7 linked regions of the Homo sapiens genome follow. The protein of the gene in region 5 purifies or fractionates together with the protein of the main gene of each other region. This does not show direct contact. Each region holds a gene or a part of one and is shown on either strand. Other genes may lie near its edges.

Region 1 (3,939 bases), on a different chromosome or scaffold from region 5:
CAGACTAGCAAAAGGCATACTTTTATATCTTAGTACCCGAGATATGCATGGTCTTTAGGCTTTGCTCTTTACTTGCTGGGTGAGCTTCCATGTGGTAGTTCTCTAAATCACTGCTGCTTCAACTCTAGTAGGAGAGAGATGAATTCTGCTAGCCATCTGTAATGTTTTAAGTATTTGTTAATATTAGGAAGGTATAAATAATGTGAGTGTTGAGGAGAGGTGACTTCAGGTAGGAAGAAGGATCAAGAGAGGCATTGTGGAGCATATAACATTTAACCTTAAAAGATAGGTCTTATAGAGAAGGTGGGAGGAGAAAGAGGGCATTTTAGGTGGAGGACAGATAGGCAGAAACATGGAGCGTATTTGGAGAAGTATGCATATTGGATGCCAAACACTAGGTACATTTACAAATGTTCTCATTGCATCATTCAGTAACCTTCACAGATAAGGTTGCTAAATCTCATGCCAGAAAAGTAACTCCCAAGGACCCCCAGCTGGTGACATGGTAGAACTGAGAGTTGAATCCAAGTTTGACCAATTCTAGTTGTTTCGCTCCTTCTACTAAGCTTCATTGACTTCCAGCTAACAAATGTCTAATTTGTACTAAGATAAAAGAGAGTTGTGAGAAATAAATTGAGAAAATGAAGTTGGAACCAGGTTACTGAGGTCTTTGAGTAGTAGGCTAAGGAGTTTGGACTTAGGGTAGGCAGTAAAAGTCATTAAAGGTTTTTGAGCAACAATAATGGTAGTGAAACTAATTCACAAAGATTAGTCCAGTAGCACTGAGTAACATAAATGGCAGTGGGGGATGTTTCAAAGTGGCAAGTTTGCTAAGACAACTGATGTTAACCAGGTAAGAGAATGAGAGCATGAACAAAGAGCAATGGAAATAGACTGACAAAGAAGTTGAGGTAAGTTGTGAAAGCATAATTGACAAATATTTGGATATATGAAGAATGAGGAAGAGAGAGTAGATTAATCAAAATTACTGTGTGAGAGGATGGTGATGCCACTGGTAATAGGAAGAGAAGATTTAGAGGGAAGATTTGGACATAGTTGAAGATGCTGGTAGCACATTGAAGCATTGTGTCTTGCGCATATAGCTTTACAAAATGGCCATTGTGCTGGATATTCTTTTTGCCCTTCCTGATCTATTTTCCATCTTTATCTCTCTTGTTCTGTGTTCCTGGGAGGCTGACAAATAAAGAACTGCATACTCTCTTTTCTGGCTTTATTCATGGTGGGTTTGGACAGTGATAGAAAAGTGAGGCTGAAATATTTGCTCCTTCTCTTTCTCATATACTTAGCAAGAGATTGTGAGTGGCCACAGCTCTGCTCCAGTGGCCCTCTTATAGCTCTAGGTCTTTTCTGGCTTCTCGTAACTGTCTCCTATTGCTAGATTCTCTAGTCCCAAGAAGGTTCAAACCTTGTTGATTTGCCTTAACTGTGCCCATACCCTTGTAAATAGTTCCTTTTATTAAAACTCTTCAATAACTGAATATACTGTGGTCATCTCTTCAGTGAAATTAAAAAAAAAAACTTCTTTCACATTTTCTTATGACTTGATCTTCCCACACCACCAAACGTGAAGATCTAGCTATTTGCACTAGGTTACTATCCCTAAATTCAGTGCCTCCCTGTTTCTTAGTATGTCAAGTTAAAATTTGTTACTCTTCTGCTGGGTGATTGTGCTGGAAATACAGAAGAAAAAGACAAAAATCCCTGCCCTCAAAGAGCTTATATTTTACTGGGGAGAGACAGGCAATAAGACATAATCAATTATATGGTATGTTAGAAGATGAGAAGTATAGAAAAAATTAGGGTGAGGAATGGCGATTGTTGCAAGGGATGTTTGTGAGGATAGCATACTTTAAAATAGGTGGTATGGGTAGGTCTCTCAGAAAGTGACATTTGAGCAAAGACTTGAAGGAAATGTGGGAGTGAGCAATATAGGTATGGGAAGAGCATTCTAGGTAGAGGATTAGGAAGAGCAAAAGCCCTGAAGCAGGACTGTGTCTGGCCTCTGAAGAAATGCAAATTGTTCAGGGTTGTTGGACCTGAAGGAAGAGGAGGAAAGGAATAATGAGGCCAGAGGGGCCAGATCATGTAGGGATTTGTAGGTTGTTGTAAGGATTTTGGTTTTCACTAAATGAATGGTGAACCATTTCAGTTTTGAGCAGAGGAGTTCCATGATCTGATTTGAATTTTAAAAGATGTGTTTCCCAAAATTCCTATTCCTTTCATACAGCTGCTTTCAATGAAGGTTTATAAGGAAAGCAATCAGAACTACTTGGATAAGGTATAAGTGATCCACAATCTTTTCAACTCTACCATAGGTATCTACATATATATGTTGAGAGATGCTGCTTTTTGGCCAAAATGAATCTTGAATTGGGGGTGTGCAGAAAAAGTTATATCTGGCCTGAGGCTGGTATCTTTTAGAGTGGCCTACTTGCATGGTTGGCCCTTATCTGAACACGTGGATTTAGGGGTATTCTCACTGTTCACTAATAAAGGTGGTTCACTGTACCTAGACTGTTCAAACAAGATGATTTATGCTAAACACCTGCTTTCCTTCTGGGAGTATGGAATTTTGGTACATGCCAGGTAAAGGATGTCTATATGACCAAACTCCCAATGAAAACCTTGCATACTGAGTCCCTAGGCAGAAACATCCCTCGTATAAAAATGTGCTCTGTGTGAATCTTCATGGGAGGGAGAGATCCTAAAGAAGCCTGCACATGGATTCCTCCAGATTCTGCTTATGTCTTTTTCCTGTATGATCCAACTGTGTACACTTACTGTGTCACTGTAATAAACTTTAGCCATGAGTACGATACTTAGCAGTGCTGAGTTTTGTGAACCCTTCTATCAAATCTCAATATGGGCTTGGTCCGGGGGATCCCTGACACAGGCAGATTTTTTTTTTTTTTTTCAAAGAGTCACCAAGTTAATTGGAAAACATCAGGTTATGGATAGAAGGAGCAGTTGGGCAACCTGTCACAGAAGTCAGCCAGCTCTGTCTAGTGGAGAGCTCTTCTGAGCTGTTTCTGCTTTGTTAATTCCTTTTCTTTCTCCAAAAGCTTCCCTCCATTTGGTTTTGTCACACTTTATACATTTGTAACAAACTGCTGACCGGAATTTGTCCATCAGGTTATGAAAAATGGCAAATGAGGAGAGTAAAATTATGGATTTATTTATTAAGAACTATTAAAGTATTCATATGCTCTGGGACACCATTACTAGGAATTTAACCTTAACAGAACAGTTTATTGAAAAATTTATTGAAAGGAAAACAGTCTTTGCATAAAAATTATGACGTAGCAAAAAATTGGAAACTAAATGTCAAATATTAGGGAAATGTTAACTGTGGTCTGTCAAAAGGTGAAATATTAACTCAGTGTTATCAGGTGAATGAATTAACAAGATGTGGTATATACATACAATGGAATATTCAGCCATAAGAAAGAATAAATTTCTGGTATATGCTACAAGATGAATGAAAACATGCCAAGTGAAATAAGCCTGCACAAAAGGACATACTATGATTGCACTTAAATGAGGTACCCAGAGTAGGCAAATTCAGAGAGATAGAAATGGGAAATTACTGTTTAAGGGATACAGAATTTCTTTTCAGATGTTGAGAAAGTTCTGAAAATGGATAGTGGTGATTGTTATACAACATTATGAATGTACTTAATGCTGATGAATCGTATATTTAAAAATGGTTAAAATGGCTTTTTTTCTTTTTTTTGGAGGCCGGGTCTTACTCTGGTGCCCAGGCTGGAGTGCAGTGGCATGATCATAGCTCACTGGAGCTTCGAACTGTGGGCTCAAGTGATCCTCCCACCTCAGCCTCCCCCGTAGCTAGAACTGACTACAGGCACGCGCCACCACAGCTAGCTAATTTAAAAAATCTTTTTGTAGAGATGGAGTCTT
Region 2 (4,440 bases), about 23 Mb from region 5:
TTAATCTATCTGCCTTTGTGTTACTTGGTACAAATCAGTGCTGAATCCCCTCTTTTGGCTGTTATTATGTATCAGGTGTTGTAAACTAATGTTTACCATAATTTGGATAATAAACCTACCATTTGGGGAGATAGTGAAGAAAAAAGAGATACATTTTCTGGAATGGAGTATTGGTAATTATTTGTTTTAACTATTCTCAGTTTTGCAGATAATTGGGTTAATGTCATTTTAAAAATTGTGCTTGTTTTTTACTGGATCGGCATATAATTTTGAATTATTGCTAATATCACACTAATTCCTTTTTGTTAAATGTGTCTTCATAGATTACACACACTCCGCCTGCAGGAATACTTATCAGGGCTTTAATGGTAAGTATCCTCTTTCAGCTTTTCTCTTCATGCGCATAAAAATATAGTATCAATGTAAAAGGCCAGTTCTACCTATTTCAGTCCTTGTTTTGGTTCTTGATATATCATTTATGTGTTAATATTGTCTTACTATATATAGTATTTGAATTGGGGAATGTGCTATCAGAAAATGTTAGGGGTTATTCACATTAGTTTGATTTTTTTTTTGGTCCATTTTGTTTGAATTATGATTATTTTAATGTGTTCCAAAGGGCCTAACTACATTCTGAGTGATGAATCACAAGACACTGGCTGAGTTATTTTGGTTGAATTAGAGGCTTTGGTATTGAGTAATGTAGACTAAGTGGATTATTGGCTTGGTTCTATATAGCTTGTATTGTAATGCATTTTGACCTTGTTTTTGAGGTCATTTTCTTCAGTGTGTCCAAATGTGTTAGTATATAAAGAGCTGTCTAGAGGAGCACATGAAGAAGCTTGATTGTTTATTGACATGAGCATGACATTAGACTTGTGACTATAGAACTAGATAGAATCATGAGAGGTATGTAGAATACAATTGGATGTCATTTTGATAGTTATTAGAGTTAGGGCCCTGCCACACAAGATAATAATACAAAAAAAGAACACAGAACAATTAATGCAGGTTAAAAAACATATGAAGGACTTGAGGCATTAAATATCATGATTGCCAGAGAAATGTAAAATCCAACTTTCGTACAGAATAGAATATATTCACAAAGTAAAACTGAAGCAAATGTATACTAAAGACTATGCCATTTATGGGAATAATTACTGAACAGTTAATTTTTATTTCATTATCTTTAAAGATTAAGATAAACTTTGGATTTCATGTGGGCTAAAAAGGCTTAACATATAGGGAGTTAGTACTGAAGAATGTATTTGTGAGCTGGAAATTGAAAATTACCAAAGGAAGTTTAATTTGCATCCACATGTAAGTTATATTGAAAACTGGAAAATTAACGAGAAAGCCATTTCATAAGTTTTGATATAAAGATTTTAAGGCCTTGAACTTGGGAGGTGATAGTAGTAGTAATCTTAAAAATAAAGAGCAAATTAGCAGAACTTGCAGGCTGACTAGTAATGGGTAGAAAATTGAGAGGGTTGAATAAAAATGAATCCAGGATTTTAAACTGGAATGTATGACTAGTGCTTTTACAAGGGAGAGGGGGAGGGGAAGAGGGAGGGGGAGAGGGAGAGAGTTTGTAATGATAAAAGGCCATCTAGGATTTACTGGATAGTTGGATTTAATGTCTAAACATAGGACTTGAAATGCAGACTCATGCAGGGCCAGATGTTTATTTATTAATTAGTATACAGTGTTGCAAAAAGATCTAATATGACTTTTATTTTTTCTCTTAATTTTAGTTATAACTGGTTCTCATCTGAGGGTGATTGTTGGAATCTCTTGGGGAGCTTTTTCAAAGTCTCTCTTTTCACACATAGCCTATACCTCTTGAATCTTAATTTCAGGGCAAGTGGTCTTTGGCTGTGTATGTTGTGCAAAACTACTCTGAATGATTTTGGAAGGCACCTCTGATTAAAGACCAATGCTTGACAGTACTTCTAGGTCTAGATTATCTATATTTTACAAATGAGGAACTTAATTTCAGGGATTCAATTTGACTTTGTTCAGCAAATATTTATTTAGTGCCTGCTGGGCATCAGATATCGTTCTAGGAGGTGGGAATATAGCAGTGAACAAAATGGACAAATATTCCTGCCTTTGTGAGGCTTTCCGTCTAGTGGGATGAAATAGTAAACAAGATAAGAAATAATATATATGTCATAATTTAGTCCACAGGGGAAAAAGGGAGTAATATTTATTGTATGTTAGATGATGATCATTGCGAGGGAGAGTAACATAGAGAAGGAGGATAAATGTGTGTGTGTGCTTGTATGTGTTGCAATTTTAGAGTCTCTGGGGAAAGACTCACCAAAAAGATGACATTTGAGCATAGATTTAAGATGAGTGAGTATGCAAGCCATGAAGCCATTTAGAAGAAGACTTACGGGCTTTAAGAAATAAACAGTGTGTAGGTACCAAAAAGCCAAAAATATATTTTATTGTTAGCACTGTATTTTCTAGGAAGTGAAATGAAGTAGAAGGCATTGGAAAACATGGCAAGATACAGATTTTCCCCACACTATTTCTTGGAAGGAAAATGTATTTCCAGTGTCTCCATGTTTTCCTTCTTGCTTCATAATACCTTTTACATAAATAGCATATAGAAAAGGGGAGAGAAAAGGGTGTGGTAGCTCATGCCTATAATCCTAGTGCTTTGGGAGCCTGAGGTAGGAGCACTGCTTGAGGCCAGGTGATTGAAACTAGCTTGGGCAACATAGTGAGACCCTGTCTCTACAAAAAAATTTTTTAAAAACATTAGCCAGGCGTGGTGGTGCCCCCCTATAGTTCCAGTTACTCCAGAGGCTGAGATGGGAGGATCGATTGAGCCCAGGAGGTGGAGGCTGCAGTGAGCTATGATTGTGCCACTGCAGTCCAGCATGGGTGACAGAGCAAGACCTTAACGCTGGCTTGACTAGAACAGATGATTTTTTGCTGAGCAATCTTAAGACAAGGTTAGAGTGGTGAGGTGGAGCCAGAAAGCATTGAAAATCAAAGATAATTTGCTTATATATCAGAAGCAATACAAGTGAAGACCTGAAAAAGTTGAGGGAGTAAACAGTGCAGGTTCAGGGGAATGAGCATTCCAGGCAGAGGGAACAGCAGCTGCTAAAATGGGTATACACCTTGTGTTCTAGAGACATCAAGGGGCCTGGTGTTGTAGTAGTGGAGTGAACAGGGGTGTATGTAATTGATAATGAAGTTAAGAGGTGATGGGGCATATCATGTAGGGCAGGGTTTCTCAAATTTCTTACATTTTGGACTGGGTAATTTTTTGTTGTAGGGGGATGTCCTGTGCATTGTGGAACATTTAGCAGCCTCCTTGGCCTCTATAATATGCCAGATGTCAGTAGCATCTGCCCCCTAGTTGTGACAACCAAAAATGTTTCAGACATTGCCAATGTCCCCAGGGGGTGCAAAATCTCCCCTAGTTAAGAACCACTGGTATAGGTTCTTAGATGTTATTTTAAGCTTTGGCTTTTACTTGGAATAAGAGGAACCCATTGGAGGTTACTGAGCATTGAACATGATTGAACTTAACATTTTGTCAGAATTATTGTGGCTGTTGTCTTCAGAAAAAACAGCAAAGGAGCAAAAGTGGAGCAGGAAAACCAGTTAGGAGACTTTTGCAATAACCTAGGTGGTAGATGTTGGTATCTTGTAGTAGGGTGCTGGTAGTGTAGAGTTGCTAAAAAGTAGTCCCACTCAAGACTTAATGTCACATAGTTAGTTATTTTGGTCATAGGTCAGTTTTTAATTTTTTTTTTTTTTTGAGGTGGAGTTTCTCTCTTGTCGCCCAGGCTAGAGTGCAATGGTGTGATCTCAGCTCACTGCAACTTCCGCCTCCTGGGTTCAAGCAATTCTTTTGCCTCAGCCTCCTGAGTAGCTGGGATTACAGGCACCCACCACCATGCCTGGCTAATTTTTTTTGTGTTTTTTAGTAGAGACGGAGTTTTACCATGTTGGTCAGGCTGGTCTTGAACTCCTGACCTCAGGTGATCCACCCGCCTTGGCCTCCCAAAGGATTGGGATTACAGGTGTAAGCCACCTTGCCCAGCCCATAGGTCAGTTTTTTTTCCCCCAGTATGTCACAGCTGCTGCTTTGTGTTTTAATTAAAAATGAGTTTTAGCATTTTTGAGCGTATTATTTGTATGATAGAGTGATCCAAGTGATAGAATATATTTGATTTAAATTATTAGGTCAGTTTTATTTTTCTGGGTAAATTACTATCATTTAAGATATACTACTATGTTCTCATGGTTTTATTTTTAAAAGTGATTTTAAAATTCATTTTGGTGACCTGGAAGAAAAATTTATAAAAAAGCAGTCATCTTACATTATCTGTAGCCCTATAACTACACTGATTGTATACAATATAAAGACTTTTCCTCCTGTTTAAATGAGTAGTAACATTACTATGAACAATC
Region 3 (4,440 bases), on a different chromosome or scaffold from region 5:
GTACCCATACTGGACTTGCTATGCTTGCTGTTGTAATTACTAAAGATGCTTGAAAGGCATACATTTCCATGTCTTTGGTCCTACCCACCATGATTTACCAAGGGGAAGGTTGGAGCTTATTGTGGTTTTATTTTTACAAAATTCTTGAGTTTGGATTATTTTCATGTATTGAATGAGGTAGGCATGTAACTTAAAAGTTAAAAATTCCCAAATAACCTAATTGTCCCAGCATCATTTATTGAATACTTTTTATTTAATAAACACTTGTGCCTTCTGTGCAGTTGGTACTGTTCTAAGCACATTACTGATTTAAGCACTAGCTGGTTGAATCCTCATAAACAACGTTGGGAGGCAGGTCTCTTGCTATGCTTATTTTACAGACAAGAAACTTTGAGGCTCCAAGAGCCCTCTTGCCTTGAGGATCCACAACTAGTAAGAGGCAGAGTTGAGATTCAAATCCAGGGTCTGTGGTCTGAACCAGTGTGCATGTTGAAGGATTGTCAGATTGACAGATGCAAGCAGATACCGACCCTCTTGGTAAGAAGGCATCCAGACTTAGAAGGCCCAGGGGCACTTTACAGGTGGTTGATAAGGTGATTAGGCTGGAGGAATAGGAGGCCCTGAGAGGCCTGGGGGCTGGTGCCTCTGCCCCATGACCCCTGCACATGGCCCAGTGGTCTCATGACCACTGATAACCAGGGGCAGCAGACGGAAGCCAGAGTCAGGGGTATGTTTGGATAGGGGGCAGGGCAGGGTACAAAATCAGAAATAAGCGGCCGGGCATGGTGGCTCACACCTATAAGGTGGGTGGATCACGAGATCAGGAGATCGAGACCATCCTGGCGAACACGGTGAAACCCTGTCTCTACTAAAAATACAAAAAAAAATTAGCCGGGCCTGGTGGCGGGTGCCTGTAGTCCCAGAAATAAGCATCAAACTAAGAACTGATATTTGAGGTAAACCAGTATCATGAAAGAGCATCACCAAACTCAACCAACTCCTGACACCCTAGAAGACAGAGTCACTATGAGAAAGAGGAGGTGTAGTCTATAAATATGTATGTGCAATGAATAGTCTCAGGTAATAAGAGTATATTGTATCCATGAAACAGACACTGGTTGCTATGAAAACGATTCTATTAAGGATCTTGGAAATGAAAAATAGATTGAAATAAAAATCTCAGCGGTTGGCTGATAGAATAGATCCTGAAGAAGGAAAGATTTAGGAGTTGGTCCCAGAGACTTTATCATCCAAAAACTCCTTCACAAGGAATTACCTGGCTGGGTGCAGTGGCTCACGCCTGTAATCCCAACACTTTGGGAGACCGAGGGGGACAGATGACTTGAGGTTGGGAGTTCGAGACCAGCCTGGCCAACATAGTGAAACCGTGTCTCTAATAAAAATACAAAAAATTAGCTGGGCATGGTGACAGGCGCCTGTAATCCCAGCTACTTGGGAGACCGAGGCACAAGAATCACTTGAACCCGGGAGGCAGAGGTTGCAGTGAGCCAAGATCGCACCACTGCACTCCAGCCTGGGTACAACGGAGCATGACTCTGTCTCAAAAAAAAGAGAAGGAATTACCAAGAGACTGTAAGAGGAAAGAGTGTGATACAAAAGCACAGCAATAAGTAAAGAAACTGCTAAACTTAGGTTTCTGGTGTGCATGTTTGAATTCTTAAGTCAAAATGCTCCTTGTATGTTGTATTTAACAAAACAGTCAATTGAACGCATAATGAAAAGCCAAATGTTTCTGCTGTGACCTGTTTCCATGTTCCACTCCTTGAAGGCAGTCACTTAGTTCTTCAAACTACTTCTCACGGCTACCTCTGTATCTCTTTTTATTATTTATTTATTTATTTATTTATTTATTTATTTTTTGAGACAGAGTCTCGCTCTGTCCCCCAGGCTGGAGTGCAGTGGCGGGATCTTGGCTCGCTGCAAGCTCTGCCTCCCGGGTTCACACCATTCTCCTGCCTCAGCCTCCCTAGTAGCTGGGACTACAGGCACCTGCCACCACACCCGGCTAATTTTTTTGTATTTTTAGTAGAGACGGGATTTCACCATGTTAGCCAGGATGGTCTCAATCTCCTGACCTCATGATCCTCCTGCCTTGGCCTCCCAAAGCGCTGGAATTACAGGCATGAGCCACCGCACCTGGCTTACCTCTGTATCTCTTAATAAGCCTATGTTGCTTTTTCTTGACTGAACAGTTTTATGCATGACCATTGACATTCTCTGAAGATATATGTGGATTAATAAGTTCTTTTTTTTTTTTGTTTAAAGAGATGAGTTTTCATTCTGTTGCCCAGGCTAGAGCACAGTGGCATGATCATAGTTCACTGCAGCCTCAACCTGGGCTCACAAAATCCCCCTGCCTCAGCCTCCCAAGTAGCTGAGACTACAGGAGTACACCACCGCATTCAGCTATCAGCTTTTTTTTTTTTTTCTTTTTTTAAGAAATGGGTTTTTGCTCTGTTGCCCAGGCTGGTGTCTAACTCCTGGGCTCAAGCGATCCCCCAGATCACTGGGGTTACAGGCATGAGCCATCATGTCCAGCCTTAATAAATTCTTTTTATTAGTTAGCAAGTGAAAAAGTCAGACCTCTAGGAGGCAGATATAAGAAGGGCTTCTTATCTCCACCCTCTGAGGGCCAGCAGAGATTTGAGACCTTCCACCCTCACACCCCACAAGCATGATTTGTTCCCACTGGAGCCTTGTGGACAGAACTGGCCATTGCCTCTTTGCCGAGGTGACCTGCCTCGTGTCGTGCACTAAAGATGTCAGAAGAGCCAGGTGCGGTTACTCACACCTGTAATCCCACCACTTTGGGAAGCCGAGGCGAGTGGGCCGCATGAGGTCAGGAATTTGAGACCAGCCTGGCCAACATGATGAAACCCCATCTCTACTAAAAATAAAAAATTAGCTGGGCATGGTGGTGGCTGCCTATACTCCCAGCTACTCAGGAGGCTGAGGCAGGAGAATCACTTGAACCCAGGAGGCAGAGGTTGCAGTGAGCTGAGATCGCACCACTGCACTCCAGCCTGGGCGACAAGAGCAAAACACCGTCTCAAATCAATCAATGAATCAATCAGAAGTATAGACAGACACATCCACTATGGCTTTACTTCCTTGTTTGGAACACCAAGGGGCAGGCTTCCGTCCTTTTCTATGAGAGAGTGCAAAGCATCAAGCCTAGAAAATGATAACAACAGTGCAGGATATAAAGCTGAAGGAATATGTCATACTTTGTTTTCTCTCATCTTCTAAATTGTCCCCTGGGAGTGGGCCAGCCCTGACCATGCTCTCCAGGGAGAGCCCACCAGGTCCTACGTGTTCACACACTCAGGAAAACAAGTGGCTAAGAATCCCTGTGGTCTAGCCTCAGCAGGATTGTCCAAGCACCCCAAAGTTAACATAAAATCTAAATAATTGATGTTTGGGGTGAAATAAAAGAAACTAAAATCCCAGATGATCTAAATATGTGAGGCACAAGGGGAAGGAGGGAGGTAGGTGTGCAGGCCTTTGTCTTGTTTGACATGAGGATAGAGCTAAAGGGTAATTCTGGATATTGATACAAAATAAAAGTTTAGGTATGTGTGTCGATTAGCCATTAAAGGAACAGAAGTGAGGTCTATAACTTCCGTACTACTATAGAGAGAAAGAAGCAAAAACACAGGAATTGGAAAACACAGAGATGGGAAATTGCATAGCAGGTGAACGCTACCAAAAAGAAAGGATGTAGAGAATTGTTTAGGCAAAAAAGACTTTAAGGAGAACAGCACTAAAAGGAGCAAAAGAAGTTCCTGATAAAAGGGAAAGTCATCACGAACATATAGATTGTGAATCTTGGTGCCTGCACTACATAGCTTTGAGCCATGTAAATAAACAACCTTTAGAAATCATTTAAGTCCAGAGCTGGGTGCGGTGGCTCATGCCTGTAATCCCAGCACTTTGGGAGGCCAAGGTGAGCAGATCACCTGAGATCAGGAGTTCAAGACCAGCCTGGCCAACATGGTGAAACCCCATCTCTGCTAAAAAAAATTCGAAAATTAGCTGGGTGTGGTGGCGGGTGCCTATAATCCCAGCTACTCGGGAGGATGAGGCTGGAGAATCACTTGAATCCAGGAGGCAGAGGTTGCAGTGATCCGAGATTGCGCCACTGCACTCCAGCCTGGGTGACAGAGCGAGACTCCGTCTCAAAAAAAAAAAAATCATTTAAGTCCAAAACCATGATAAGAGGAATTGGATGAATCCAAAACCATGGTAGGAGACATTAATGTTTCTCTGAAATGCGTAGACGACGTAATCCAAATAAGGTTGTGGAAGATTTTATAACACAGGAAATGAGCATAAACAGAGACAATCTGCTAATATTTGTTGAGCGGTTAATGACTACTAGGCAGTTTTCATAGCACTTGCCTCCTAGTGAAAAGCTTA
Region 4 (4,440 bases), on a different chromosome or scaffold from region 5:
AAAGGGTATAATCATCCCCGGGAGAGAGCACTCCTTTTAAATGGGGCTACTCATCCTGGCTTGGCTAATGGTGAACCTACCTTGTGGGTTTTAAATCAACCGTGACATCAGGTGGTATTGGGTGCCTGAGCTGGCATTTTGTGTAAGTCCAGGAGCCCTTGATAGTGTGCGTCACTGGGGTTATTGATCGTGGGAAGAAGACAGCTTGGCTGGCATCTCACCTTTTCCTCTGAGTGGAGAAGCTGACTTGCTTTAAGTGCCCAAAGCAAAATTCTGAGTAAGGGTAGATTTGCTCTGTTATTGTTTTTTGGAATCTTAAGGCAAGAGAGTGTCTACTTGTTGGTTTAGAACCTTTGGAATAGGTTTTGACAGCCTAACTCAAGTTAATCCAGTAGCTTCTCTCTCTAAGCCTGTTGTTAGGGTTTGTGTGCATTTTGAGAGAGAATTCTATGATTGGGTTGTCAGTCTGGTAAGGCTAGATGATGACCCTTTCTCTGGAGCCTACGTGGATCTCTGAAGTGCTTTTCCAGCCCTGGTTTTATTTACAGCTTCGACAAATTTAAACGTGACACTAGTGGAGTGGCTGTGTGGTCTTGGGAATTTTTGTGTTCTGTGATGCACATGTTTTTGGGAGTCTACAGAAATGAGTACCTCATAAGCAAACTAAAAGCTTTCCAAAGCTTGCTGTAAATGCCTATTTTTAGCCTTACTTTTGGCTCAAATGTTGGTGTTTTAGTTCTTTAAGGGACACATGCAGTAACTAGTAATAAAATATGTTTCGTGATATCTCTACTTTCTTGTGGGGTTCTGTATTCTGGTTTAAGCGTCCAAGTCTTACATTTGTAGTTTTAAGTCTTGGGATTTGCATTTTGGTTTTTTAGATCTCCCTCCCTCCCCAGAGTATTTTTAAATGTTTAAAATTTTTGTCTTATCCTAGCCATACCCCTTTTAAGTATAAGATCCAAGACGTCTAAGTTAAGAGATGATACATAGCGAATATTCTGGGGTCAAACTGAGTGGGTTCAAATGCCACTGTACCACTTGTTAGCTGTGCTTCCTTGGGCAAGTTATTTAACCATTCTATGCCTCACCTTCTTAATTTGTGTAATAGGTATTTATGATTCACCTGCCTCATGGGGGTATTACCAGCATTCATTGTTATGATAAGTGTATTTAGCCCAGTGCCTGGCAGGTAGACATTGTTACTTACTCTGGGTCTTGGTGGGACTTTTCCCTGGGTCTCTGGTTTTCTCTACCTGTAATATGATGGGGTTGGTGAATGCAGATCTTTCCTTTTCTTGTGTTATATAAGTACTCCGTGAAATGTATGGGATCTGTCTCCTTAAAACTTGACTTTTGCTTATCCACAGACATGAAGGGCATGGATGGATAATTTAAAGGTTGCTGACTCTTAAGAATTAGCTATTTTTTGCTTTGGAATGTGGTGAGATGAATTTTAAAAAAATAAGTTTTAACTTTTTAGTTTGCCTTTTGTAAAGATTTTCTTTGGGGGGAGTTGCACGTGTGCTCTCAGGGATATGAGGAAAAGCCAGCCTAACTGGACTGAAAGTTTGCTGTGGCTGGTGCACATGTAGTGCCGTGAGACTTGAGAGTACAGATAGTCCCCAACTTATGATGGTTCAATTTATGATTTTTTGACTTTATGTTGTTGGGAAAGTGATACACATTTATTGGAAACTGTACTTCAGGTACCCATACAACCATGGTTTTTCACTTTCAGTACAGTATTCAATAAATTAATTACATGAGACATTAAACGCTTAAAATAGGCTTTATGTTAGATGCTATGGCCATCCGTAGGCTAATATAAGTGTTCTGAGTGCATTTAAGATAGGCTGGGCTAAGTTTGTTTGTTTGTTTGTTTGTTTGTTTGTTTGTTTTTTTGGAGACAGTCTGGCTCTGTCGCCCAGATTGGAGTGCAGTGGTGTGATCTCGGCCCACTGCAACCTCCACCTCCCGGGTTCAAGCGATTCTCCTGCCTCAGCCTTGAGAGTAGCTGGGATTACAGGCATGTGCCACCATGCCCGGCTAATTTTGTATTTTTAGTAGAACGGGGTTTCTCCATGTTGGTCAGGCTGGTCTCAAACTCCCGACCTCAGGTGATCCACCTGCCTTGGCCTCCCAAAGTTTTGGGTTGGGATTACAGGCGTGAGCCACCGCGCCCGGCCCTAGGAGCTACTTCTGATCCTGCTCATGACCAGCAATGTGGACACCGGCAAACGCTTTGCTTTCTCTGTGCCTGTTTCTTCGTCTGTAAAATCAGGGTATTAGACTAGGTCTAAATGTCTTAAAATTTTTCTAGTATCAAAAATTTTTTTCTAAAACTCCCTCCCCACAAAAGAAAGAAACCAAAGTAGAGCTTTATATATGTGTAGCTTTGTATTTGCGTTGTGATTAGGAATCCAAGCTCTCTGGAGGCTGGAGAAACTCTTCTGGCTTCAGGAGCCTAAGTCGATGGCTTGGGGGTGTATAATGGAGCAGCCAGACATTATGTGCCTTACAGTGTCTGAAAGCACACAGCACTGCCTGAAAATTTCCTCCACCAAATAAAAACTGAACCTAAATCTAACAGAACCATAGATCCAACTGCCAGTTTATAGGGAAATGGGGCTACAGGAACAGACTAATTAGCCATGAGGTAGGCAGTTATTCAGTTTCTAAATGTGAGAAATTCTACAAGACACACTATTTCCAATAAATAAATGGCATTTTTTAAAGGGAAGAACTGTTACAGATGAAGAAAGTTGAGACATCAGTCGTGCATTGTTGTGGATCTTGTTTGGATCTTGATTCTTGACCAAATGTCCAAAGACATTTTGATGACAACTGAGGAAATTGACTAAGTTAAGAAATTATCTTATTTTGTCAGGGGTGATAATGGTATTATGATTGTTTTTAACTGTGTAACTGGATATATTGTGCACCCCCACCTAAGAACTGTTAGGTTAGTCTATTACATAAGACTTAAGGCTTTTTCCTATTGTGCACTTGATCTTAGCCAAAAGGCCAAGAAGCAATATAGTGTGAATCACTTTCTCTTCTTCTAAGGAAAGGTCACAATTAGGACACCCTTTGAAGGGGAGAGTGGGAGGCAGCTTTCATCGGGAGCCTTCAGCTGGCCTGGCCCCTTTCCTTTTGCACAGGTAGTTTGAGTTTCATACTAACCCGGAAGTGAGTGCCTGCCAGGTAGGGGAAGGTTTTTAGGAAGTGGTTTTTGGCCCTTTGGGAGGTAGAGGGTAGTCACAAGCTTTCTTGAACTCTGAACCTCCTGAGGGTCGGGGTCTTTCTGCTGACCCACCCACTGTCTATAGTGGGACCTGAACTGGAGTAAGCAATCTTAATAGCTGTTACTGAGCACCCATTCTCTTTTCTGGGAGGTGGGCAGGGTGGGAGGAGGAGGAGGAGCAGCCGGCCTGAAACTACAAAACCTCTTTAAGATGGAGAGCTTGGCAGATGGGAGTTCCCCTGTTTGCAAAACCCAAGACAGCTCAAAGGGAGTAATTAGGGTGTTGGGGCCACTGGAGGTTCAGCAGGTGCCTCAGTCCAGACTCAAAAACCTCCCTGGCTGGTCCAGAGTGATCTAAGGGAGTGGCCAGGAGAGAGGATGGCCTTACCTTGCCTGGGATTCAAGAAAGGAAGTAAGTTTTGGTACCTCGCTGGTGAAAACATGGGAAACAGCACATCAATGTGAAGGGAGAAGGTGATGGGATTTAAATTAGAACATGGGCAGGGTACTTCTCTCTGCTCTCACTTTGTGACCTTAGATTGTTTGTCTAACCTGTTTTCCTTATTCACAGAATGGGGCTAATCCCGGTGCTGAGGTTGTTTAGAGCGTCAAATTGCTGTTGAGTATGGGGCAGTACAGTTCATGAATTGAAAAAGTCCTGCTGGGCGCGGGGGTTCACACCTGTAATCCTAGCACTTTGGAAGGCCGAGGCGGGCGGATCATGAGGTCAGGAGTTTTAAGACCAATCTGGCCAGCATAGTGAAACCTCGTCTCTACTAAAAATACAAAAAAATTAGCCAGGCATGGTGGCGTGTGCCTGTAGTCCCAGCTACTCAGGAGGCTGAGGCAGGAGAATTGCTCGAACCGGGGAGGCGGAGGTTGCAGTGAGCTGAGATCGTGCCACTGCACTCCAGCCTGGGTGACAAGAGCAAGACTCCATCTCAAAACAAAACAAAAAAACCAAAAAAACCTCCTACACAGAGGTAAGATGTAAGTTTTTTTTTTTATTTCAGAAGATTGCATTCCAAAGCCAGATATTGGTAATTACTCACTCTGAGGGTTTATCTGTGCCTTTCCGGAACTGAGTGGATAATCAGGAGTTAGCTGAATTTTCAACAAGGGCTATTTGTGGTAGTTACCAGGGGCAAGTGGCCAACTTCACATGGCTAATAGCCTGGGATGTCTTCCTGAAG
Region 5 (3,500 bases):
CAATCAGGGTGGTTTTTTTAGTCATTGTTTTATTTAAAAAGAATCATGTTTGGCCGGGCTCAGTGGCTCAAACCTGTAATCCCAGCACTTTGGGAGGCCAAGGCGGGTGGATCACCTGAGGTCAGGAGTTTGAGACCAGTCTGGCCAACATGGCGAAACCCCGTCTCTACTAAAAAATACAAAAAATTAGCTGGGCGTGGTGGCGGGCGCCTGTAATCCCAGCTACTCGGGAGGCTGAGGCAGGAGAATCACTTGAACCCGGGAGGCGGAAGTTGCAGTGAGCCAAGATGGCGCCATTGCACACCAGCCCGGGCGACAGACCAAGACTCTGTCAAAAGAATCATGTTATTCACATCATCCACGTCCTACTCTCTCAACTGTGTGATGGGAATCACTCGTAGGCATATGGCATAGACCTCTAATGCATTGTTGGGATTTTTTCCCCAATATCATACTATAATAAATTTTAAACATAAAGAAAAGTTGAAATGAATCTACAGTGAACATCCACATACCCTTACCTAGATTTCTTTTAACGTTTTACACATATCTGCCCATAGATCCATCCCGCTATTCATTTAGCAAGTCATCTTAATTTTCCTGATGCATTTCAAAATAAGTTACAGACATCAGTACACTTCACTCCAACAAATTATTATTAATTATTTAGCGTGATTATTATCAGCTAGAGTTCAAAATTTATGTTATGTTTGCCTAGAAATAAAAAAAAATTGTTTATGGGTTTTTTTTTTTTTTTAGACAGTTTTGCTCTTGTTACCCAGGCTGGAGTGCAATGGCGCAGTCTTGGCTCACTGCAACCTCCGCCTCTGGGATTCAAGCAATTCTCCTGCCTCAGCCTCCCAAGTAGCTGGGACTACAGGCATGCGCCACCATGCCCAGCTAATTTTTTGTATTTAGTAGAGACGGGGTTTCACCATGTTGGCCAGGCTGGTCTTGAACTCCTGACCTCAGGTGATCCACCCGCCTTGGCCTCCCAAAGTGCTGGGATTACAGGCGTGAGCCATCGCGCCCGGCCATGGGTTTTTTGTTGTTGTTGTTTGGGTTTTGGTTTTTTGTTTTTTTAAGTCAAGGTCTTGCTCCGTTGTCAAGACTGGAGTACAGTGGCATGAACATAGCTCACTGCAGCCTCAACCTCCCAGACTCAGGCTATCCTCCCACCTCAGCCTCCTGAGTAGCTGGGACCATAGGCGTGTGCCACTATGCCCAGCTAATTTTTCATTTTTTGTGGAGATGGGGTCTGTCTATATTGTGCAGGGTGGTCTTGAACTTTTGGGATTACAGGTATGAACCACTGTGCCGGGCCTTTAAGCAAAATTTGCAAACAGCAAAATGTTCAAATTGTAAGTGTACTGTTCTGTGAGGTTTAACAAATGCATATATCTGTGTGCAAACGCCTGTTGAGGTACAGAACATCACATCACTCCAGAAAGCTCCCTCGTGCCCTTTCCTAGTCAGTCCTCACTCTTACTCACCCAGAAGCAACCACTGCTCTGATTTTTTCATGACAGTACCTGTTCTAGAAATTCATTTAATGGAATCATATAGTATGTACTGTTGTGTAAGGCAACTTTCACTTAGCGTAATGTTTTTGAGATTCATCCACAATGTATCAGTAGTTTCTTTTTTATCACTTAGTAGTATTCCATTGTATGAATCCAAATCACAGTTTGTATATTTATTCCCCTGTTTATGGACAGTGTTTTTAGTTTGGGGCTCTTCTGAATGAAGCTCCTAGGAACATCTTTTTTTTTTTTTTTTGAGACGGAGTCTTGCTCTGTTGCCCAGGCTAGAGTGCAATGGCATGATCTTGGCTCACTGCAACCTGCACCTCCCAGGTTCAAGCAATTCTCCCGCCTCAGCCTCCTGAGTAGCAGGGATTACAGGTGCCTGCCACAACGCCTGGCTAATTTTTTTTTTTTTTGTAGAGACGGGGTTTCACTGTGTTTGCCACGCTGGTCTCGAACTCCTGACCTCAAGTGTTCCATCCGCCTTGGCCTCCCAAAGTGCTGGGATTACAGGCGTGAGCCACCGTGCCCAGCCAGGAACATCTTATACAAGTCATTTTGTGGACTTACATTTTAATTTCTTTTGGGATGTAACTAGGAGTGGAATTTTTGAGTCATAGGATAGGCATATGTTTAGTTTTACAAGGAACTATTAGACCTTTTCCCAAAGTGCTTAAACCATTTTACAGACCAACAAACAATGCATGAGAGTTTGGGTTGTTGTATTTTTTATTTTTTTGAGACAAAATCTCATTCTGTCACCCAGGATGGAGTGCAGTGGCACAATTGTGGCAGACTGCAGCCTCAAGGGCCCAGCTAATTTCTTAATTTTTTTGTAGAAACAGGGTCTTGCTATGTTTCCCAGGATGGTCTTGAACTTCTCAGTTGAAGTGATCCTCCTACCTCAGCCTTCCAAAGTGCTAGGATTACAGGCATGATCCGCTGTGCCTGGCCTGGTTGTTCCGTATCCTTACCAGTGTTTCGTATTGTGAGCCTTTTAAATGTTAGCCATTTGAGTGGGTGTGGTACATCTTTTCAATGGCTGCATAATATCCCACGGTATGAGTGCTTACAATGTGTTCACCTTTCACTCTGTTGATGGGCATTTGTTTAATTTTCAATTCTTGACCACTGTGAGTGACTCTGCAGTAAGTATCCTTGCACATATGTCTTTATACATTGGTACTTTTCTTCCCATGGGACACATTCCAGGAACAGTGTTACTGGGTTTTGTGGGGTTTTGTTTTATCTTTTAAATTTAAATTTTATTTTATTTTATTTTTTGAGTCAGGGTCTTGCTCTGTTGCCCAGACTGGAGTGCAGATCTGCAATCATAGCTCTCTGTAACCTCAAAGTCCTGGGCTCAAGCAATCCTCACACCTCAGCCTCCTGAGTAGCTGGGACTACAGGGGTGTGCCACCACACCTGACTAATTTTTTTTTTTAATTCTTTGTAGAGACAGGGACCTGCTATGTTTCTTAGGCTGATATCAAACTCCTGGGCTCAAGTGATCCTCCCACCTCAGCCTCCCAAAGTGCTAGGATTAGAGGCGTGAGCCACCATGCCCAGTCCCTGGGATTTTTTTTTTTTTTTTTTTTTTGTGACAGAGTTTGGTTCTTGTTGCCCAGGCTGGAGTGCAATGGCGCGAACTCAGCTCACTGCAACCTCCGCCTCCTGGGTTCAAGCGATTCTCCTGCCTCAGCCTCCTGAGTAGCTGGGATTAGAGGTGCCTGCCACCATGCCCAGCTAATTTTTTCTATTTTTAGTAGAAATGGGTTTCTCCATGCAGGTCAGGCTGGTCTCAAACTCCCGACCTCAGGTGATCCGCCCGCCTCAGCCTCCCAAAGTGCTGGGATTACAGGCGTGAGCCACCGTGCCCGGACAGTCCCTGGGTTTTAAAGGATACCTGTATTTTAAATATTTGTAGATGTTGCCAGATTGTTTTCCCAAAAGATGGCAATACTTGACTCTTCT
Region 6 (4,440 bases), on a different chromosome or scaffold from region 5:
CAAATTACCCAAGATAGTAGAAAAGCTGATTGTCCACCTCAATCTCACTTTTTCCGGTGTAGAAACCATGAGTTAGGGGAGATTTTCCAGGTACTTGGTGCCAGCCAGATTGAGAGAAGGGGCATCACAGGTGTGAAAATTCGATTCTGTCACTGTCTGCTCAGAGGTTTTTTACGTCTCTGTGGCCCAGGAACTGACTCGTCCTCATATTTGAGTCCTGGGATAGTGCTGATGATAATGTTAGCATTGTATATTTATTTTTGGTTTTCTTTGTCAGGATTGAAGTCAGCTTGTGACTACACCACCATTTTAGACCCAGAAGTTTCCCAAATATGCAGTTATTATTGGCCATGTAGAAGTTTCTAAGACCTAGGGCCATATTTTCTAATGTTTAAATGTCATTTTTTTCAAATAATGTTAATCTTCAAAATGTGATTTTGTCTATTTCTAGAATGTGATTTTATCAGATCTCATTAAAGCAAACTCAAGAAAACTATTCAAGGGTTGGTCAAAACATGCCAGTATGTGAAGTATGATTGGGACATGGAGATATGTTTACTTGGAGCTTTGTTTTAGGCATACTTTATATAATTGAGCTGTGTATTTGAACTATATGAATATGACAAGTTACATAAATTTAGCTAAAGACATTTTGGTTTAAAATCTTACACATTTTTGTAATTTCTATAGGAAAAAGCTGTTGCTCAAATGAAGATAATGATCTCAGAGTGTGAATCATCTGTGAAGTAAGTCATTAATGAAATTACATCCAGCTTTTTAGGAGATTTTCAGTGAATACAGCTTTATCTATTCAGTAGCATTGCAGCAATAGAAGAATTTCCCTTTCAATTTCCCCATTTTTGTCAATGGTAGCATCATTTTCTCAGTCTCCAGCTTGAAAATGTTATCTTCTTTAACCTCTCCTTTTCTGTCATCCACATCTAAACACTTATGTCTTATTAACTATTCTCCTATATACCTATTTGTTCCTTATTTTTACTATAATTATGCCACTTGGAGCCTAATCATTAAAACCTAAAATTACTTTAGTAGCCAATCTCGAATTTATTCTCCATCTAAACCTATCTTGAGCACTGTCACAAAATTTTACATTTTATGTATAGTCTCTCTAGGCAGATTGTAAGCCACTTCAAGAAAAAAGTCACTTATTATATTTATTTTACATACCCTTAACATTTTATATAATAGTGGGGATTATAAACATTTAATAAATATTTGCCAATTGAATCTATGCTTTACTTTTTGTTTGTTTGTTTTTGAGACAAGGTCTCACTCTGTCGCACAGGCTGGAGTGTAGTGGCGAGATCTCTGCTCACGGCAACCTCACCCTCCCCAGGCTCAGGTGATCCTCCCACCTCAGCCTTCTGAGTAGCTGAGACTGCAGGCGTGTGCCACCACGCTCAGCTAATTTAAAAAAAAATTTTTGTAGAAACAACGTCTCCCTATATTGCCCAGGCTGGTCTCGAACTCCTGGGCTCAAGCTATTCAACTGTTTTTGTTGTTGTTGTTGTTTTTTGTTGTTGAGACGGAGTCTCGCTCTGTTGCCCAGGCTGGAGTGCAGTGGGGCGATCTCGGCTCATTGCAAGCTCTGCCTCCCGGGTTCACGCCATTTTCCTGCCTCAGCCTCCCAAGTAGCTGGACTACACGTGCCCGCCACCACACCCGGCTATTTTTTTTTGTATTTTTAGTAGAGACGGGGTTTCACCGTGTTAGCCAGGATGGTCTCTATCTCCTGACCTCATGATCTGCCCGCCTCGGCCTCCCAAAGTTCTGGGATTACAGGCGTGAGCCACCGCGCCCAGCCCCCAAGCTATTCAACTTTTAACACTTGAAAGTTTTCTGTGTTTACTTGACTGTTGGAATAACATTTTTTTTTAACTTCATTTGCATGTAATTATTGGTAGAGCTCTAAAATACCTGTTCTACCTAATTAATAGGTCTCTTAATGCAGCAGTTATAATTTCTTATAATCACAGTATATTTGTATTCTAAGTATACTTAGACTATAAGTTTTCTTTTAAATGAACTACAGTTTTTAAAAGTTTTCTTTATTAGTTTCACATCACTCATTTAACAGCCAGCTGAAAGAAACATTGGTTAATCGAGATCGTGAGATAAACAGCCTCCGGCGCCAGCTTGATGCAGCTCACAAAGAACTCGATGAAGTAGGAAGATCTAGAGAAATCGCTTTTAAGGAAAACAGAAGACTGCAAGATGACCTGGCTACAATGGCAAGAGAAAATCAAGTATGAACACAAGGCATAAATTTTGATAGTTTTATACTTTCCATTGTTTGCTAAATATTAAAGCTCTAAATATTTTTTCTAAAATCTGATGATATAAAAATAAGTGACATAAATAATTCATTAAGGACAATGGTGTTTATCAGGGTATTAAAAAATGGAGCTTAGGCCGGGCGCAGTGGCTCACACCTGTAATCTTAGCACTTTCAGAGGCTGAGGTGGGTGGATCACTTGAGGTCAGGAGTTCGAGACCAGCCTGGCCAACATTGTGAAAACCCCCCCCCCACCCCCATCTCTACTAAAAATACAAAAATTAGCCAGGCCTGGCGGCATGCGCCTGTAATCCCAGCTGCTCGGAAGGCTGAGGCAGGAGAATCACCTGAACCTGGAGGCAGAGGTTGCAGTGAGCCGAGATCGTGCCACTGCACTCCAGCCTGGGCAACAGAGTGAGACTCCATCCAAAAAAAAAAAAAAAAAATGGGCAACAGCGTGAGACTCTGTCAAAAAAAAAACACATAGCTTAGAATGCTGCTATATATCACAGGGTGTCTAATGGGTGCAACTGGTCTTCTCACCATTTTGGTCTTTGTTGCAAGGAAACCTAAAGGTGGGAGCATGAAATTCTGTATGTCAGAAATCATTGTCACCCTACCGGGCGAGGACATCAGCATCCCTCCCAGAGCAAAGTTTCTGTGTTTTAAAGACTCAGGATAGGTTTTAATTATTTGTGCAAGCTTCTGTCGGCTCCAAAATACACCTGTAGATAAATGAATGAGTGTTTTAGAATGGCAAGTACTGAAAGGTGTTAGTTCTGTTCGTGCTGGTTTCTTAAAAGATTGTACTGAGAAAACCAGTGATTTTACTGTTTTAAACATCTTACGTTTTTAAAAAATTATTTTCCGTATTATTCAGCATAAAGCATATTGATGAAATATGAATGTTTTTTAATGTCAACCCCTGACCATAGCTAGCCTTTAGTGTAAATGCCAGATACATGATCAGGACTATTATGGGAAATGTGTGATAAAGTTTGGTTAAAAAGTCAGTATCAGACCAGGCGTGGTAGCTCACGCCTATAATCCCAGCACTTTCGGAGACCAAAGTGGGAGGATTGCTTGAGCCCAGGAGTTTGAGACCAGGCTGGACATCATAGTGAGACCTCATCTCAGAAAATTAAAAAAAAAAATTAGCTGGTATGGTGACATGTGCCTGTGGTCTCAGCTACTCGGAGGGCTGAAGTGGAAGGATTGCTTGAGCCCAGAAGGTCGAGGCTGCAGTGAGCTGTGATCACGCCATTGCACTTCAGTCTGGGCGACAGAATGAGACTCTGTCTGAAATATTTTAAAAGGCAAGATCAGCCAGGAAAAATATGTGAAAATAACACTTAGGAACAGTTTTCCTTTTGCCCTACTCTATCTTATTCTCCAATTCCAAAGGAATTATTTGAATATAAATAAAATTTATTTGGTGTTGTGTTCATTTTAGATTGTCTTTAATTTTCTGATTTGTAGGAAATCTCATTGGAATTGGAAGCAGCAGTGCAAGAAAAAGAAGAAATGAAGAGCAGAGTTCATAAATACATAACAGAGGTGTCACGATGGGAGAGCTTAATGGCTGCCAAGGTGAAAAATATTATTTAGGTTGGATTTAAGACTGAGGTTTTTTTTTTTTTTAACTTTTTCATGTGCCTCTACAATTAGATATTAAACATTTTAAAGTAGAGATCTTGTCTACTGCCTTTTTCTATTTTTCCCATAGATTTTAGTGTGGTACCTGCACAGATATCTAATGCTTCCTAAATTAGAACAGAATGCTGTGTATGTGTATGTGTTTATGACATAGGTGTTCCAGGAAGTGACAATTACTAATTTAGAAACAATTTTATTGTGATTAAACCAGGAAAAAGAAAATCAAGATTTGTTAGATAGATTTCAGATGCTTCATAACCGTGCTGAAGACTGGGAGGTCAAAGCCCATCAAGCTGAGGGAGAAAGCAGCTCAGTTCGACTGGAACTTCTTTCTATTGACACTGAGAGGAGACATCTTCGAGAAAGAGTGGAGCTATTAGAAAAAGAAATTCAAGAGGTAATATATTTATTTGTTTTGTAAAGATGTTATTTAGTGAAACAGAAAACATTCAAAGATACTTTATTTATTTATTTATTTATTTTTTTTG
Region 7 (3,462 bases), on a different chromosome or scaffold from region 5:
AAATCTTAGTGGCTCTTTATTTTCACCCTCACTGTGATTACAATCCTAGATTCTATCTCACTGTCTTGTTTTCCCTGCCTTCAACTTCTTAAATCTTTAGTCCCTGAGTTTCAGAATGGCAAACACATAAAAAGAAAAATATAAGTACTAAAATGTACTACAGTGTATTTCTAATTTTTAAAAAATTGTAGTTTTGATTCTTATATAGTATAAAAGAATCAAATTAATTCTAGCAGTGTCTAATCTTCTGATTGCATATTTTTTTCTGGAACAAAATATCCTCAAACGTATGTCTCCAACTTCATGTAGGAGTAGAAAATTACTGAAGCAACTGTCAGCCTGGTGTGGGCCCAGTTCTGAGGATAGTCGGGGAGGCCGGCGAGCTCCCGGCAGAGGCCAGCAAGGATTGACCAGAGAGGCTTGCCTGTCCATCTTGGGCCACTTCCCCAGGGCCCTGGTTTGGGTCAGCCTGTCCCTGCTCAGCAAGGGCAGCCCCGAGCCTCACACCATGATCTGTGTCCCAGCCAAGGAGGACTTCCTCCAGCTCCATGAGGACTGGCATTACTGTGGGCCCCAGGAATCCAAACACAGTGACCCATTCAGGAGCAAGATCCTGAAACAGAAAGAGAAGAAGAAAAGGGAGAAGAGGCAGAAGCCAGGACGTGCCTCTTCTGATGGCCCGGCGGGGGAAGAGCCCGTGGCTGGGCAGGAAGCTCTGACTCTAGGGCTGTGGTCAGGCCCTCTGCCGCGTGTGACGTTGCACTGCTCCAGAACTCTCCTAGGCTTTGTGACTCAGGGAGATTTTTCCATGGCTGTTGGCTGTGGAGAAGCCCTGGGGTTTGTTAGCTTGACAGGCTTGCTGGATATGCTGTCCAGCCAGCCTGCAGCGCAGAGGGGCTTAGTGCTACTGAGGCCTCCCGCCTCTCTGCAGTATCGATTTGCGAGGATTGCTATTGAGGTGTGAATGCGTGCTTGTATCCCAGCAGGGCATAGATAATACGTTATTATTGTCTGCCAAGTTCTACATGTGGAGAATCTGCTTCTGCTTTAAAATATCATGTGAAACTCCCTGGAAACAAGAATAAAAAATTATGTATTATGCAGATGATGAAATGTTTACATCATTCCAGTAATGTCATTGATTTTCATCTTTCCCTGTCCTTGCTGTAATACTTTTAAATTATTTGGCCAAAAGCTTTGTATTATGATCTCTTGGTCTGTGTAGTTGTGGCTGAAAATAATGAGAAGCTCTACGAGTTATCATCCCCTTTTTTTGTTAGAAACAAAGGGCTTGTCAGGTCTATTTGAAAAACCTCATAGTCATGTGATAAGCAACAATAGATGTTTAATGATTTCACTGTTATAGCAGAAGACAAGAGAAGACGCTTGGCCTCTGTACATGAAATATGGGCTCCTGATGGACCTCATTCAATTCTGTACTGTGATTTCCATGCCGAACAACTCAAGCCTTAAAGAGAGAAATCATGGACAACTGATTTCTGCCTGTTTTCAGGCAGGCACAGTTTATGGCGTCAGTGCTAGGCTGGAATTAGAAAGTGGGGGTCTATGACGTGGACTTCCTGACTCTTTGATCTCTTTGTTGTTGACCAACACTTGATCCTACTAGTTACTTAATTTTTTTAAGTAAAAAATTATTATTATTTTGTTTCTGCAAAGATTTTCTCAAAGCCATAGAGGAGCATTTCTCAGAATATGTTCTATGATATGTGTCACCTAAAAAAGTAAGAGATTCCAAGGTCAGGTTGATATGGAAACTCTAGGTTAAATAAAGTTAAGCATTTCTTTATGAAAGAACTTCTGGAAACTTCCATGTGATAATGTGCATTGCGGATCTCTAGGAAGGAAATGATAGTGTATAGTATTTTCTAAATACTTGTGATTCCTAAAGTTCTCTTACAAGGAGCCCTTTGTAGGACCAGTGTTCTTAGTAGCGCGCTTTGGGCAGTGTGGCTGTGTAGTGCATAGCTACCTCTGCAAGGTGATAACTAAGCCGGCAAGCTGCCTTTCAACACTCATGCAGTCACGTTGTCCACCTGAGATTCTCAACAGGGTATAAAAGGAAGGTCTCATCTTGCCTCACAGGAAGAGTGGGCTCAGTGTGGCTTTTTTCCAACTATGGAGAAACTCAGTGCTCATCTACTTTAAGTTTCCACATATGGCTTGCTCATAGCCTTGGTCCTTACCTTTCCTGCCATAACTTTCTAGAAGAGCTTAATGGGATTTTTTTTCTAAAAAATGTAAATATGCAGTTAGGCATTATTTTATGTAAATGCATTGGGTTTTTACTGTAGCATTTGGCACTAAATGGCTTTGGGGGTGATGAGGTGGGGAAGGATACAGCAGGTGGTACAGTAGTCAGGAAGTACCTGCCACCAATGAGATGTCTGATGCTTTGCCTCTTACCATGCCTCTGAATGTCTTTGGATCCAACCCAGATGAGACTGAAAAAAAAAAAACAGTGTAACTAAGTGGCATCTGTAAACAGAATAAATGAAAATGTCACCTGATGTTCAGTTGTGAATATTTATATTTATTGGACCATTCCTTATTTGTTTTCTGGGCTCTCAGTCACCTCATTTGTGGCTGAGCTCACTCGATGACAGAAGTCTGAGTGTGCTGCGTGGTCACCTAACCTCATTCTGTACAGCCCTGCCTAGGGCCTGCTGCCCCGCCCTCATTATAGGGGACAGGGCACGTTTGCAGCCACTCTGCCTGGTGGGTGGTAGGTCAAAGAGCTGCGCACCAGAAAGATAGATTAGCATTTCCCAAAATGTATTCCTGGGAGTACTAGTCCCTGCAGCTGTTCCTGGAGAAAAGTATTTTATGGCTAAATAAATATGGGAAAAGCTATATATGGTATCCTCCTATTATGATTCACAATGAATACTTGCAGAGTCAAAGCTCTGCAAAGCTCTTTAGGAAAGAAATCTGTCTTTCAGACTCCCACACACGTACCTTTTTTGGTTTTTGCATACCTATTGTCCAGAGAACACTAGTTTCACAGAAGATACGTTGAAAAACTAACAGACTCTGCAGAGGCAGTAAAGAATCCATGTTCCTTATGAAAAAGACTGATAGGGGAATGGCTTACTTTCTGGCAGTTGAATTGATTAGCGTGTTGATCTTGATCCTTCCAAGTGCCTGCCATGCTGTACTAGAGCTACATAGCTACCAAATAAGTGCAATGTGGCCCTTGTCCTCTTGTTGAGGGAGCAATGCTTTTAGGGTTCTTGAAGCATCCTGACCAACATGGTGAAACCCTGTCTCTACCAAAAATACAAAATTAGCCAGGCATGGTGGCGCATGCCTGCCATCCCAGCTGCTTGAGAGGCTGAGGCAGGAGAATTGCTTGAACCCGGGAGGCGGAGGTTGCAATGAGCCGAGATCGCACCATTGCACTCCAGCCTGGGTAACAAGAGCAAAACTCCATTCCAAAAAAAA

The links.
Region 1: the proteins of MOV10 (region 5) and HNRNPA0 purify together in Homo sapiens (affinity purification with mass spectrometry; one large-scale study listed by BioGRID and IntAct). This does not show direct contact.
Region 2: the proteins of MOV10 (region 5) and ZNF326 purify together in Homo sapiens (affinity purification with mass spectrometry; one large-scale study listed by BioGRID and IntAct). This does not show direct contact.
Region 3: the proteins of MOV10 (region 5) and SUGP2 fractionate together in Homo sapiens (co-fractionation; one large-scale study listed by BioGRID). This does not show direct contact.
Region 4: the proteins of MOV10 (region 5) and LARP1 purify together in Homo sapiens (affinity purification with mass spectrometry, with the first as the bait; one large-scale study listed by BioGRID). This does not show direct contact.
Region 6: the proteins of MOV10 (region 5) and CEP135 purify together in Homo sapiens (co-immunoprecipitation; one large-scale study listed by IntAct). This does not show direct contact.
Region 7: the proteins of MOV10 (region 5) and POP1 purify together in Homo sapiens (affinity purification with mass spectrometry; one large-scale study listed by BioGRID). This does not show direct contact.

The regions. Positions count from the first base shown.
Region 1 is NC_000005.10:137,744,551-137,748,489, reverse strand, and holds the end of HNRNPA0 (heterogeneous nuclear ribonucleoprotein A0), read left to right. Parts: 3' UTR 1-2,839; downstream 2,840-3,939. UniProt on the Homo sapiens protein: mRNA-binding component of ribonucleosomes. Specifically binds AU-rich element (ARE)-containing mRNAs. Involved in post-transcriptional regulation of cytokines mRNAs.
Region 2 is NC_000001.11:89,997,787-90,002,226, forward strand, and holds part of ZNF326 (DBIRD complex subunit ZNF326), read left to right. Parts: intron 1-323; coding exon 324-368; intron 369-4,440. UniProt on the Homo sapiens protein: Core component of the DBIRD complex, a multiprotein complex that acts at the interface between core mRNP particles and RNA polymerase II (RNAPII) and integrates transcript elongation with the regulation of alternative splicing: the DBIRD complex affects local transcript elongation rates and alternative splicing of a large set of exons embedded in (A + T)-rich DNA regions.
Region 3 is NC_000019.10:19,012,643-19,017,082, reverse strand, and holds part of SUGP2 (SURP and G-patch domain-containing protein 2), read left to right. Parts: intron 1-4,440. UniProt on the Homo sapiens protein: May play a role in mRNA splicing.
Region 4 is NC_000005.10:154,758,054-154,762,493, forward strand, and holds part of LARP1 (la-related protein 1), read left to right. Parts: intron 1-4,440. UniProt on the Homo sapiens protein: RNA-binding protein that regulates the translation of specific target mRNA species downstream of the mTORC1 complex, in function of growth signals and nutrient availability.
Region 5 is NC_000001.11:112,681,159-112,684,658, forward strand, and holds part of MOV10 (helicase MOV-10), read left to right. Parts: intron 1-3,500.
Region 6 is NC_000004.12:56,007,637-56,012,076, forward strand, and holds part of CEP135 (centrosomal protein of 135 kDa), read left to right. Parts: intron 1-690; coding exon 691-746; intron 747-2,098; coding exon 2,099-2,267; intron 2,268-3,775; coding exon 3,776-3,886; intron 3,887-4,163; coding exon 4,164-4,349; intron 4,350-4,440. UniProt on the Homo sapiens protein: Centrosomal microtubule-binding protein involved in centriole biogenesis. Acts as a scaffolding protein during early centriole biogenesis.
Region 7 is NC_000008.11:98,157,308-98,160,769, forward strand, and holds the end of POP1 (ribonucleases P/MRP protein subunit POP1), read left to right. Parts: intron 1-309; coding exon 310-964; 3' UTR 965-2,528; downstream 2,529-3,462. UniProt on the Homo sapiens protein: Component of ribonuclease P, a ribonucleoprotein complex that generates mature tRNA molecules by cleaving their 5'-ends. Also a component of the MRP ribonuclease complex, which cleaves pre-rRNA sequences.